3 linked regions of the Homo sapiens genome follow. The protein of the gene in region 1 purifies or fractionates together with the protein of each later gene. This does not show direct contact. Each region holds a gene or a part of one and is shown on either strand. Other genes may lie near its edges. The genes, in order: PSD4, GULP1 and TYMS.

Region 1 (3,653 bases):
ATTTAAATAAACTTATTTGTACATTTACCAAGATAAAGCTCCAAGTAAACCTTTTCATTATTTACTATGAAAGTATGTTCTCATTTTAGTTAGATTTAGTTACTTCTATTTTGGGTTGGGTGAACTTTAATTTTTGGCATGAAGAAACTTCCCTTTTCAGAGGCTGGAACTTCTCTGGCTACCAAGCCTCTGAACCTCTCCACGGGGCAGCCTAGTTTCCAGATGCATAAGGAAGATGGTTCTTTGGTTTCTGGCACTGATTGACATTCTGTCACCATCACCCAAAGACCTTGTGATGGGCATGGGGTTAACCCTCCCATTAACCCTGACCCAGCTGTGTTAGATAGTGAGGGTGTTTAAGTGAATTCTAATGTTATATATCTGTTTATCAGGGATTGTTTTCTTTTTTTTCTTTTAGACGGCATCTTGCTCTGTTGCCCAGGCTGGTGTGCAGTGTCACAATATCAGCTCACTGGAATTTCCGCCTCCTGGGTTCAAGTGATTCTCCTGCCTTAGCCTCCTGAGTAGCTGGGACTACAGGCATGTGCCACCCTGCCTAATTTTTGTATTTTTAGTAGAGACAGCGTTTCGCCATGATGGCCAGGCTGGCTTCGAACTCCTGGCCTCAAGTGATCCACTTGCCTTGGCCTCCCAAAGCAGTAGGATTACAGGCTGAGTACTGCGCCCAGGCCCCTGGAATGTTTTCATATTATGATGTCTTCTGCTTACCAGTTCAACTTCCTAATTGTATCACTTGAATAATGAATGTTTAAATAACTGGAATACCCCACACTTGATTGTAATGTTGTCGGGGAAGCAGAAGAGTCAGGTTTAGATTGGATTGAGTGACATCTGAGAGTCTTAGTGCTGGACTGGGAGGTTCTGAGTCGGCTGGGGGTCACCCAGGCCTGTTCACACTAGGTCATAGGTCACCACTCAGTCTCCTTGTCATCCAGGCTGCTAGGTGGGGGAAGGGAGAGGCTGAGGACCACCTCCTGAACTACCCCAGCTGCTGCCATTACTAGAGCCCACCTAGCTTCCTGTTCTCAGCTCATCCTTACAGGTTTCTTGGCTCCAGATCTAGGAGTGGAGGCTAGAGCCAGAGCTGGGAGGTGGGGAAGGGACAAGGAGGTACAGGAGGACCACAGGACAGGTGAGGGAGACAATCCCACGTGCCTTGCATTGGAGAAAACAACGCTAGGGGCCTCACAGGGATGCACCTGCCACCTGAGGTGAGATAAACTCGGAACATGGCTGTGCTTTACCTGAGAAAGCGCAGGACCCCAGACCTGGAGACCTTGCATGAATACCTTCCTCTCGGGGTTCTCCTGGTCCCAGGCCAGGCTAAGTCAGTCTGGCTGTGACTCTGTCTCTTCCCTGAGTAAGGGCCTGGGTCCAGCTCCTCCGGGCCCCACCATTCAAGGCGCTGAGCTCGGGGAACTCTTGCCACAACTGACCTGCAAGAACACTTGACCCAGAGCTCCTGCATGTCTATCTCAAGTGAGAATCTGAGGACACCGATGAACTCTTCTTGGCTTCCTGGGAGCCCTATGCCCCAAGCACAGTCCCCAGAGGAAGGCCAGAGACCACCAGCTGGAGACAAGCTAGCTAATGGCGTCAGGAACAACAAGGTAGCCTGGAACTTGGCCTCACGCCTCTATCGCCTGGAGGGCTTCCGGAAGTCTGAAGTGGCTGCCTACCTGCAGAAGAAGTAAGGGGCTTTGAGCCTGGGGAAGGCTGGAGGCTGAGGCAGCCAGGGAGGAGCTGCTGAAGGGCTCCCTCCACTGGCCACCCTCCCCTTCCCGTCCCTGCCCTGTTCCCTTCCCATCTCCCCTCCTAACTTTTCCCCCATACCCTCACTGTATCTGCTGCTTACTCTCAGTCATGGTCCTCATGCTCTCCACACCCTTGGTCCTTGGTCCCCACTGCCTTGCCAACCAGACTCCACAGGTCTCTCCCAGTGTCTCCCAGTGTACACTGAATAGGGTAGCAGGGCATACCAGACCCTGGCTGCCCCCTTGCTCTGTCAGGACCCAAGGCCCAGCGTGCCTGCACCCTTCCCTTGCTCACCCCCACCGCATAATGTGTGCAGGCCCTGGGGGCCCCAGTGCATCTGCAGCCCCAGCCCAGGCCCCTGGTGCAGACTCCATGCCCCTTTTCCCTCTGCAGCAATGACTTTAGCAGGGCTGTGGCTGAGGAGTACCTGTCCTTCTTCCAGTTTGGAGGCCAGAGTCTGGACCGAGCCCTCCGGTAATGTCTTTGGGCCCTCTCTGGGGAGGCTGTGGAGGATGGCATGGGGCAGTGGCACCAGCCTGAGGCTGGGATCTGATTGGCCCTAAGCTCCCGGGCTCTCTCCTTGACCCTGGCCCTCCTTTGCAGGAGCTTCCTCCAGGCCTTGGTGCTCAGTGGGGAGACTCAGGAACGGGAGCGAATCCTCTACCAGTTCTCCAGACGCTTCCACCATTGCAATCCGGGGATCTTCCCCTCAGTAGGTAGGGAGGGGCTGGCCCTGACAGCAAAGCAGGGAAACTTTGGGGTGCCCATGTCTGCTTGGGAGTTCAGTAGGTGACAGTGAACTGGTGGGAGTGTGTTGGGGGCTGTGGAGAATGGAAGCATTCCAGGGGTTATTCGGTTACCCCACGCAGTGTGGGCAGAGGAAACAGGAGCCCTGGTTCCAATGAGCTTTCTCTCCACTTACCTATCTCTGGGGTAGATTCTGTACACACCTTGACATGTGCAATCATGCTGCTTAACACGGACCTGCATGGACAGGTAAGACGGTGGAGAGAGTCCCTGTGGGAACTGAGGCTGTAACAAGGGGTGCGGGGAGGAGAAGACCAGAGGCCTGAGACCGGGCAGGGAACACCCCTGAGGGATGTGGGCCTGGGGAGCTGGAAAGGGTTCCATGGTTGCTGGCTGGGAGGTTATTCTATTGGGATGGGGTGTGTGCTCGAGTCATCCCACTTCTCCGTGGCTACAGAACATTGGGAAGAGCATGAGCTGCCAGGAATTCATAACCAACCTGAATGGGCTGAGGGATGGCGGGAACTTCCCCAAGGAGCTGCTGAAGGTATGTGCCACGGGGTCTTCTTATGAGCCTCATGTAGGACCTGGAGCCTTGGTTCTTTGTTCCAAGGGAGATGCTGAGCTTGGGACTGGCTTTGCCAAAATATCCTTGAGAGAACAGGACTTGTTTATTGAAGGGCTAGTAAAAGTGTATTCCCTGGCGGGCAGCATCAGAAGCATCTTGGAATTTGTTATCCATGCAAATCTGCAGGCTCCCTGTGCTGGACTTATTGAATCAGACTCTCTGAGACTGGGACCCCTAAAATATTTTCTTAAGTTTTCAAGTCATTCTTACCCCTTCAAAGTCTGAGAAGGGCAAAGCTACACATGGTGAAAGTCTGGAGCTCAGACTTGGGAGCCTGGTGTTCCTGGGTTTGAATTCTAGTCTTGGGCAATTTGCCCCCTCTTGGCCAACTCAAGTTCTTCCTGAGAGTATTAACCACTTACCATGCCATTATCAAGATGAAATGAAATCTTCCAAGTGCTCAGCACGGTGCTTGGCACATAGCATGTGTGTCATAAGCAATTAAAATCATTTGCTGTTTCATCACAGTCACGCATCACTTAACGATGAAGGTGTGTTCTGA
Region 2 (3,653 bases), about 75 Mb from region 1:
TATGATCAAGAAAATCTGTTACATAATTAGCTTCAGAATGTGTCTGTATTAATTAGAGATTATTTAACAAATGAATTATGCAATTTAATTTATTTAAAATCATTTATTTTCAGGAAAACCAAACATATCGTTGAGTTTACATAGAAATACAATTTTCAACCAGATCTTCATAAAAACGCACTGGAGAAATAAATGTTCATAATTAATGACCAGTTATGTACTATTTCATCATGCCAGTAGCAGAGTTGATTACCATTAAAAATTGGTAAAGTAACATATCTTAAATGTGCAAATACCATCTTAGTACTCCATTGTGTTACCATTGATAATAAATGGCCACTAAATATATACCTATTACATAAATCTTTTTAAAGTACAATAAAAATACAAATTCTATCTGTTAAAAAAAGCCACTTATATGGCTTCTAAACATCCTTATTATACAAATTCCAAAATACTATCTGACAAACAAAATTATAAAGACTCTTCTTTATGAAACATATATTGCCCTCTAATTAAGGTACAACTTAGCAGATAAAAGAAACTAAACAAGAAGGCTCATATATACCATATAACATTAAGGAAAAACACACAAATATATATTGCATAAGCATATTTGATTTCTTTTCCTAGTGAAAATGTACCTTTAACACTTGAAGAAAATTCCAATGAGTAAATGATAAATCTATTTTTGAGGGCTACCCCTACTCTAAGTCACATTTTCATTAATTTAATTTATTTATCTTATAATGTGATGAACCAAGTTAGAAATTTTGACCATAAATTTTTGTTTTACTGAGTACAAATTAGTCTGTTAGGTAAAGGGTAAAGGTATAGGAAACAAATATTTTTAAAAGTCCAGGTTCATCAGCACATCAATAATGAAATGCAAGAGAATTTTATTGCTCATGTTCAAGACTAAACTGAGCAGTAACTGGGTTTTTTTTTTTTTTTTGGAAAATGAGATTTTTGACTTTAACAAAACAAATACAGATTGAATTTACCAAATATTGATAATTCATGTAGAACGGGTGCCACAGATTTTAAAGTATCAAAACCAAGAGGGCATCACAAAATAAACTTTGGTGAAAAATATCTTCATCAAAGAAGAAAATATGAGAAGAGTAGTCCTTATGCAGTGAGGAGAAATATATTTGGTAAAGTAAATATGGGTAGTAGATACTGAATCTATAGATAGCATATATTCCAAATGTTTTTTAGGGAATATCAAATCAGATGATGCTTAGATGTTATAGTAATATCACTTATCTCATTTGGAATGAAATTTAATGTTTTTTAATAAATAGCAAATTTTCATTTTTTCACTACCTTTATAAAACAAATTAAATATTTAGAGTATAACTGATCATAACTAACATCACCTTGCATTTACTAATAAATACTCTAAATACATTTGGTTTATTATTGGAATTTATATCCTTATAATTTTACCTGCTAGAAATTAGTGACCTTGTGGCATTATGTTTAAAGTTTACATTTTCCCAGTGATGTGAACAGTATTTATACATAAAATGATATCTGTCCAATGAATAGTAACATGTTTGTTGGTTTAAAAACAGAACATGTTTAGTTTGACATTGGCATGTCTCTTCAGAATTTAAAAAGTTATCTTTAAGGTATGGCTTTTGGGAAATCATTAATAAACTAGCCATCTGGAAAATGAATACAAATTTCAAGATGCTAACTAAATAGAACTCAGACACAAGGCAGGTATTTGTATAATATGTCTTTCAATTACAAATTCATCTACAGTAGAAACAGAAAGGAACATAAAAGTATGATCTACTTTACAGTAAGCTGTTTTTAAAATAAAAATTACAGATCAATAGTGAAGGTGAGGAAATTTAACTGAGAAAATTTTCAAAATATTAAAATATTCAAAAACATTGACACATGAATAATACCTATCTTAAAGTAATAATAATAAATGACATGTGTATACAAACACATTTAACATGAATCAGGATTTCTTGTTCTTGATGTCAGCACCTACTGTCTAACGGGTCGAGACAAAATACTGTGCCTTCAAGAGTTAGTCCCATTTTGAACCCCTCCTGTAAAACAGAATAAAATAATTAATATCTGAAATGCTTACAGCAAAATAAAATCAGTGAATAAAAAAGACTATGCACTAAAGTTGAAATATTCATGCTTTGATCAACTAATAAATAACTATATGTCAAATGTTGACTTGCTGAATTTTTATATAGGTGTATAGCACTGGTAGTTCTTTCAGACCCATTAACACTTTAATGTTTTAAATCTATGTGAGGTTAGCATGCATGAGAGACAGAAGAGAAAACATAAAATTAAGATAAAGGTTTCTTTTTCAGAAAAGGCTAGTTACTACATCATTCTATTGTAAATGAAATCTGTTAGCTTTAAAAATTATTATTAATTTAAATATTATTAAGATAGTTAGGCTTCAAATTGATGAGAGGTTCAAGATAGCCTGATGATTTTCACCTTATTCCTGGTTAGCACTGACCAGAGCCCGGGTAAAATACTTCTTTTAAATGCAATGCCGTATCCTCTGTGGAACACACAACTGCAGATTACTTTGCCATGGAGAAAACTTCCCCTACTAGCCTTGCTGTTGCTTGTAGCGGACTGGCTTCTTTGACTCCTACTCTTCCTTGCATATTTTAGAAGTTAAGTTGTCTATGATTTATTGAGTATAAGAACACAATTGCTAAGAAAGTGTTTTTCCACCAAGATTTTGAATTAAAATAATGGCATAGGAGTCTGTCCTCCTTCACTCCAATCTCTTTTTTTTTTATTGCATAAGATAATTGAACTGTGGGCCATCTCCAGTCTTGCCACCTCTCCCCATTCCTACCCTTTCCTGTAAATCTATACACATTGGCCTACAAAAAGATGAAAAGCACAGACTTGCACTGATCAATGAAAGTGGAGGTTACATTGTAGGTCTCCTTGTAGAAGCAAATGTGGTAGTGCTCTCTACATACTCTACCTTTTTTTTCTTACTAACAGAACTGAAATGTTTCAGAAAGGTAATTTGTAATTTGGAGTGGCCATGCAACACATTATTGGCAAATAATATGCAGATAGCAGTGTATTCCTAAAGAAAACAAAATGTCTCCTAAAGGTAACCATTGGTTTTCACCTCTGCTTTGGGTGTTTTATTTAATTGGACTGACTATATCTACTTGTATGTTAGCTAATTGGGTATCTTTTTGCATCTCTCCAAATTACTTTTATTTAGAATAATTATGTAAATGTTCTTATCTTTCTATAAATCCAATGTAAACATCATCATATAGAGGAGGAAGGTAGTTACAAAGCTGTAAGCCATACTTTATTTGTTATTAATGTTCAAAGAATATTCTTTATGTTTACAGCACAGAGACTACTACTATATAGCAATTACAGTGATGTAATCATTGTGAAAGTTTTTCAAAATGTCTTTCCAGTACTTGGAATACAATCTTTATTTAGTTGAGTAAATATGAGACTACTTATCATTATTTTTTAAAAATCTATTCTTATCACAAAATACATTTTGCCATATTTATTTATATTTTTCAAACAGCCAGCAAATACTTAGAAAAATAAATACTTTAAACTAAAATACTGTAAGTAAACTTTTCTTTAAAATTATTTTATTTGGA
Region 3 (3,653 bases), on another chromosome or scaffold:
GTATGGCCATTTTCACGATATTGATTCTTCCTACCCATGAGCATGGAATGGTCTTCCATTTCTTTGTATCCTCTTTTATTTCATTGAGCAGTGGTTTGTAGTTCTCCTTGAAGAGGTCCTTCACATCCCTTTTAAGGTGGATTCCTAGGTATTTTATTCTCTTTGAAGCAATTGTGAGTGGAAGTTCACTCATGATTTGGCTCTCTGTTTGTCTGTTATTGGTGTATAAGAATGCTTGTGATTTTTGCAGATTGATTTTATATCCTGAGACTTTGCTGAAGTTGCTTATCAGCTTAAGGAGATTTTGGGCTGAGACAATGGGGTTTTCTAGATATACAATCATGTCGTCTGCAAACAGGGACAATTTGACTTCCTCTTTTCCTAATTGAATACCCTTTATTTCCTTCTCCTGCCTAATTGCCCTGGCCAGAACTTCCAACACTATGTTGAATAGGAGTGGTGAGAGAGGGCATCCCTGTCTTGTGCCAGTTTTCAAAGGGAATGCTTCCAGTTTTTGCCCATTCAGTATGATATTGGCTGTGGGTTTGTCATAGATAGCTCTTATTATTTTGAAATATGTCCCATCAATACCTAATTTATTGAGAGTTTTTAGCATGATGTGTTGTTGAATTTTGTCAAAGGCCTTTTCTGCATCTATTGAGATAATCATGTGGTTTTTGTCTTTGGATCTGTTTATATGCTGGATTACATTTATTGATTTGTGTATATTGAACCAGCCTTGCATCCCAGGGATGAAGCCCACATGATCATGGTGGATAAGCTTTTTGATGTGCTGCTGGATTCGGTTTGCCAGTATTTTATTGAGGAATTTTGCATCAATGTTCATCAAGGATATTGGTCTAAAATTCTCTTTTTTGGTTGTGTCTCTGCCCAGCTTTGGTATCAGGATGATGCTGGCTTCATAAAATGAGTTAGGGAGGATTCCCTCTTTTTCTATTGATTGGAATAGTTTCAGAAGGAATGGTACCAGTTCCTCTTTGTACCTCTGGTAGAATTCGGCTGTGAATCCATCTGGTCCTGGACTCTTTTTGGTTGGTAAGCTATTGATTATTGCCACAATTTCAGCTCCTGTTATTGGTCTATTCAGAGATTCAACTTCTTCCTGGTTTAGTCTTGGGAGAGTGTATGTGTCAAGGAATTTATCCATTTCTTCTAGATTTTCTAGTTTATTTGCGTAGAGGTGTTTGTAGTAATCTCTGATGGTAGTTTGTATTTCTGTGGGATTGGTGGTGATATCCCCTTTATCATTTTTTATTGCGTCTATTTGATTCTTCTCTTTTTCTTTATTAGTCTTGCTAGCGGTCTATAAATTTTGTTGATCCTTTCAAAAAACCAGCTCCTGGATTCATTAATTTTTTGAAGGGTTTTTTGTGTCTCTATTTCCTTCAGTTCTGCTCTGATTTTAGTTATTTCTTGCCTTCTGCTAGCTTTTGAATGTGTTTGCTCTTGCTTTTCTAGTTCTTTTAATTGTGATGTTAGGGTGTCAATTTTGGATCTTTCCTGCTTTCTCTTGTGGGCATTTAGTGCTATAAATTTCCCTCTACACACTGCTTTGAATGTGTCCCAGAGATTCTGGTATGTTGTGTCTCTGTTCTCGTTGGTTTCAAAGAACATCTTTATTTCTGCCTTCATTTCGTTATGTACCCAGTAGTCATTCCGGAGCAGGTTGTTCAGTTTCCATGTAGTTGAGCAGTTTTGAGTGAGTTTCTTAGTTCTGAGTTCTAGTTTGATTGCACTGTGGTCTGAGAGATAGTTTGTTATAATTTCTGTTCTTTTACATTTGCTGAGGAGAGCTTTACTTCCAACTATGTGGTCAATTTTGGAATAGGTGTGGTGCGGTGCTGAAAAAAATGTATATTCTGTTGATTTGGGGTGGAGAGTTCTGTAGATGTCTATTAGGTCCGCTTAGTGCAGAGCTGAGTTCAATTCCTGGGTATCCTTGTTAACTTTCTGTCTCGTTGATCTGTCTAATGTTGACAGTGGGGTGTTAAAGTCTCCCATTATTAATGTGTGGGAGTCTAAGTCTCTTTGTAGGTCAGATGATTGGCACTTACTGGGCGCTTGGCACTTTCCATACTGTGTCATCGGCAGATAGCTGCATGGTTGGTGTTCGTGCTGGGGAATGGGAAGTTCATCGGTGGGACAAGGGACAAAATGCCCCCATTGCTTTGTTGTGGCTTTAATCTCCCTTTCGAGGCTGAGCCACAGCGTGCTGTAGGTGGCGCTGCTGTGAAGCGCAGTGCCAGGGTCACACTCCACTCCCAGCTCTGCAGAGGTGGAGAAAGAATGAAACATCTCACTCCTGGACTTCCACTTTCCTGTCACTGTTGGTGTCACCTCTTACTGGATGTCACAGAGCCCAGCCCCTCCCACCTGTCCCTAGGAAAAGCAGATGCCACCTTGGAATGTGGGGTTTGTGTGTGCAATTTACTAGCTGGGCAGAGACCAGCAACCTGGAGAGCAGGTGTCTCATCTAAGGGGACAGTCACATTTCACCTCCAGCCACCTGGAGGAATTTGGGCCTGGTGATGTCAGAATTCTTCAATAAAAGCCTAAAATCTATATTTTATGTGCGGTCATGAGATCTGTTAAATGTTAGCAACTTCAGGAAGTTTAAAAATGCTGTGTGGACCTAGAATAGGCAAGTTCTTAAAGGCAGAAAGTGGAATGCTAGTTTCCAGGGACTGGGGAACAGGGAGGAATGGGGAGTTCATGTTTAATGGGCACAGAGGTTTTGTTAGGGATGACGAAAAAGTTCGGGAGATGGTGATGGAGATGGTGATGGTGATGGAGATGGTGATGGTGATGGAGATGGTGATGGTGATGGAGATGGAGATGGTGATGGAGATGGAGATGGTGATGGTGATGGAGATGGTGATGGTGATGGAGATGGAGATGGTGATGGAGATGGTGATGGTGATGGAGATGGAGATGGTGATGGTGATGGAGATGGTGATGGTGATGGAGATGGAGATGGAGATGGTGATGGTGATGGTGATGGAGATGGTGATGGTGATGGTGATGGTGATGGAGATGGTGATGGTGATGGTGATGGTGATGGAGATGGTGATGGTGATGGTGATGGAGATGGTGATGGTGATGGAGATGGAGATGGTGATGGTGATGGTGATGGAGATGGTGATGGTGATGGGATGGTGATGGAGATGGTGATGGTGATGGTGATGGAGATGGTGATGGTGATGGAGATGGTGATGGAGATGGTGATGGTGATGGAGATGGTGATGGTGATGGTGATGGTGATGGAGATGGTGATGGTGATGGTGATGGTGATGGTGATGGAGATGGTGATGGTGATGGTGATGGTGATGATGGAGATGGTGATGGTGATGGTGATGGTGATGGTGATGGAGATGGTGATGGTGATGGTGATGGTGATGGAGATGGTGATGGTGATGGTGATGGAGATGGTGATGGTGATGGAGATGGTGATGGTGATGGTGATGGTGATGGTGATGGTGATGGAGATGGGTGATGGTGATGGTTGCCTAACATCAGGAACGTGCTTAATGCTTCTGAATTGCACACAAAAATGGCAAGTTTAATATTATGTGTACTTTATCACAATGAAAAAAGCTGCTGCGTGGGCCAAGTTACTTGTGCAGGTAAGTGTT

The links.
Region 2: the proteins of PSD4 (region 1) and GULP1 purify together in Homo sapiens (affinity purification with mass spectrometry; one large-scale study listed by BioGRID and IntAct). This does not show direct contact.
Region 3: the proteins of PSD4 (region 1) and TYMS purify together in Homo sapiens (affinity purification with mass spectrometry; one large-scale study listed by BioGRID and IntAct). This does not show direct contact.

The regions. Positions count from the first base shown.
Region 1 is NC_000002.12:113,190,879-113,194,531, forward strand, and holds part of PSD4 (PH and SEC7 domain-containing protein 4), read left to right. Parts: intron 1-1,501; coding exon 1,502-1,711; intron 1,712-2,169; coding exon 2,170-2,250; intron 2,251-2,379; coding exon 2,380-2,492; intron 2,493-2,713; coding exon 2,714-2,772; intron 2,773-2,980; coding exon 2,981-3,070; intron 3,071-3,653. UniProt on the Homo sapiens protein: Guanine nucleotide exchange factor for ARF6 and ARL14/ARF7. Through ARL14 activation, controls the movement of MHC class II-containing vesicles along the actin cytoskeleton in dendritic cells. Involved in membrane recycling.
Region 2 is NC_000002.12:188,592,362-188,596,014, reverse strand, and holds the end of GULP1 (PTB domain-containing engulfment adapter protein 1), read right to left. Parts: intron 2,076-3,653; coding exon 2,004-2,075; 3' UTR 89-2,003; downstream 1-88. UniProt on the Homo sapiens protein: May function as an adapter protein. Required for efficient phagocytosis of apoptotic cells. Modulates cellular glycosphingolipid and cholesterol transport. May play a role in the internalization and endosomal trafficking of various LRP1 ligands, such as PSAP.
Region 3 is NC_000018.10:664,109-667,761, forward strand, and holds part of TYMS (thymidylate synthase), read left to right. Parts: coding exon of another isoform or gene 1-1,168; exon of another isoform or gene 1,169-2,288; intron 2,289-2,728; exon of another isoform or gene 2,729-3,571; coding exon of another isoform or gene 3,572-3,644; intron 3,645-3,653. Other genes in the region: ENOSF1 (mitochondrial enolase superfamily member 1), read right to left, coding at 1-1,168. UniProt on the Homo sapiens protein: Catalyzes the reductive methylation of 2'-deoxyuridine 5'-monophosphate (dUMP) to thymidine 5'-monophosphate (dTMP), using the cosubstrate, 5,10- methylenetetrahydrofolate (CH2H4folate) as a 1-carbon donor and reductant and contributes to the de novo mitochondrial thymidylate biosynthesis pathway.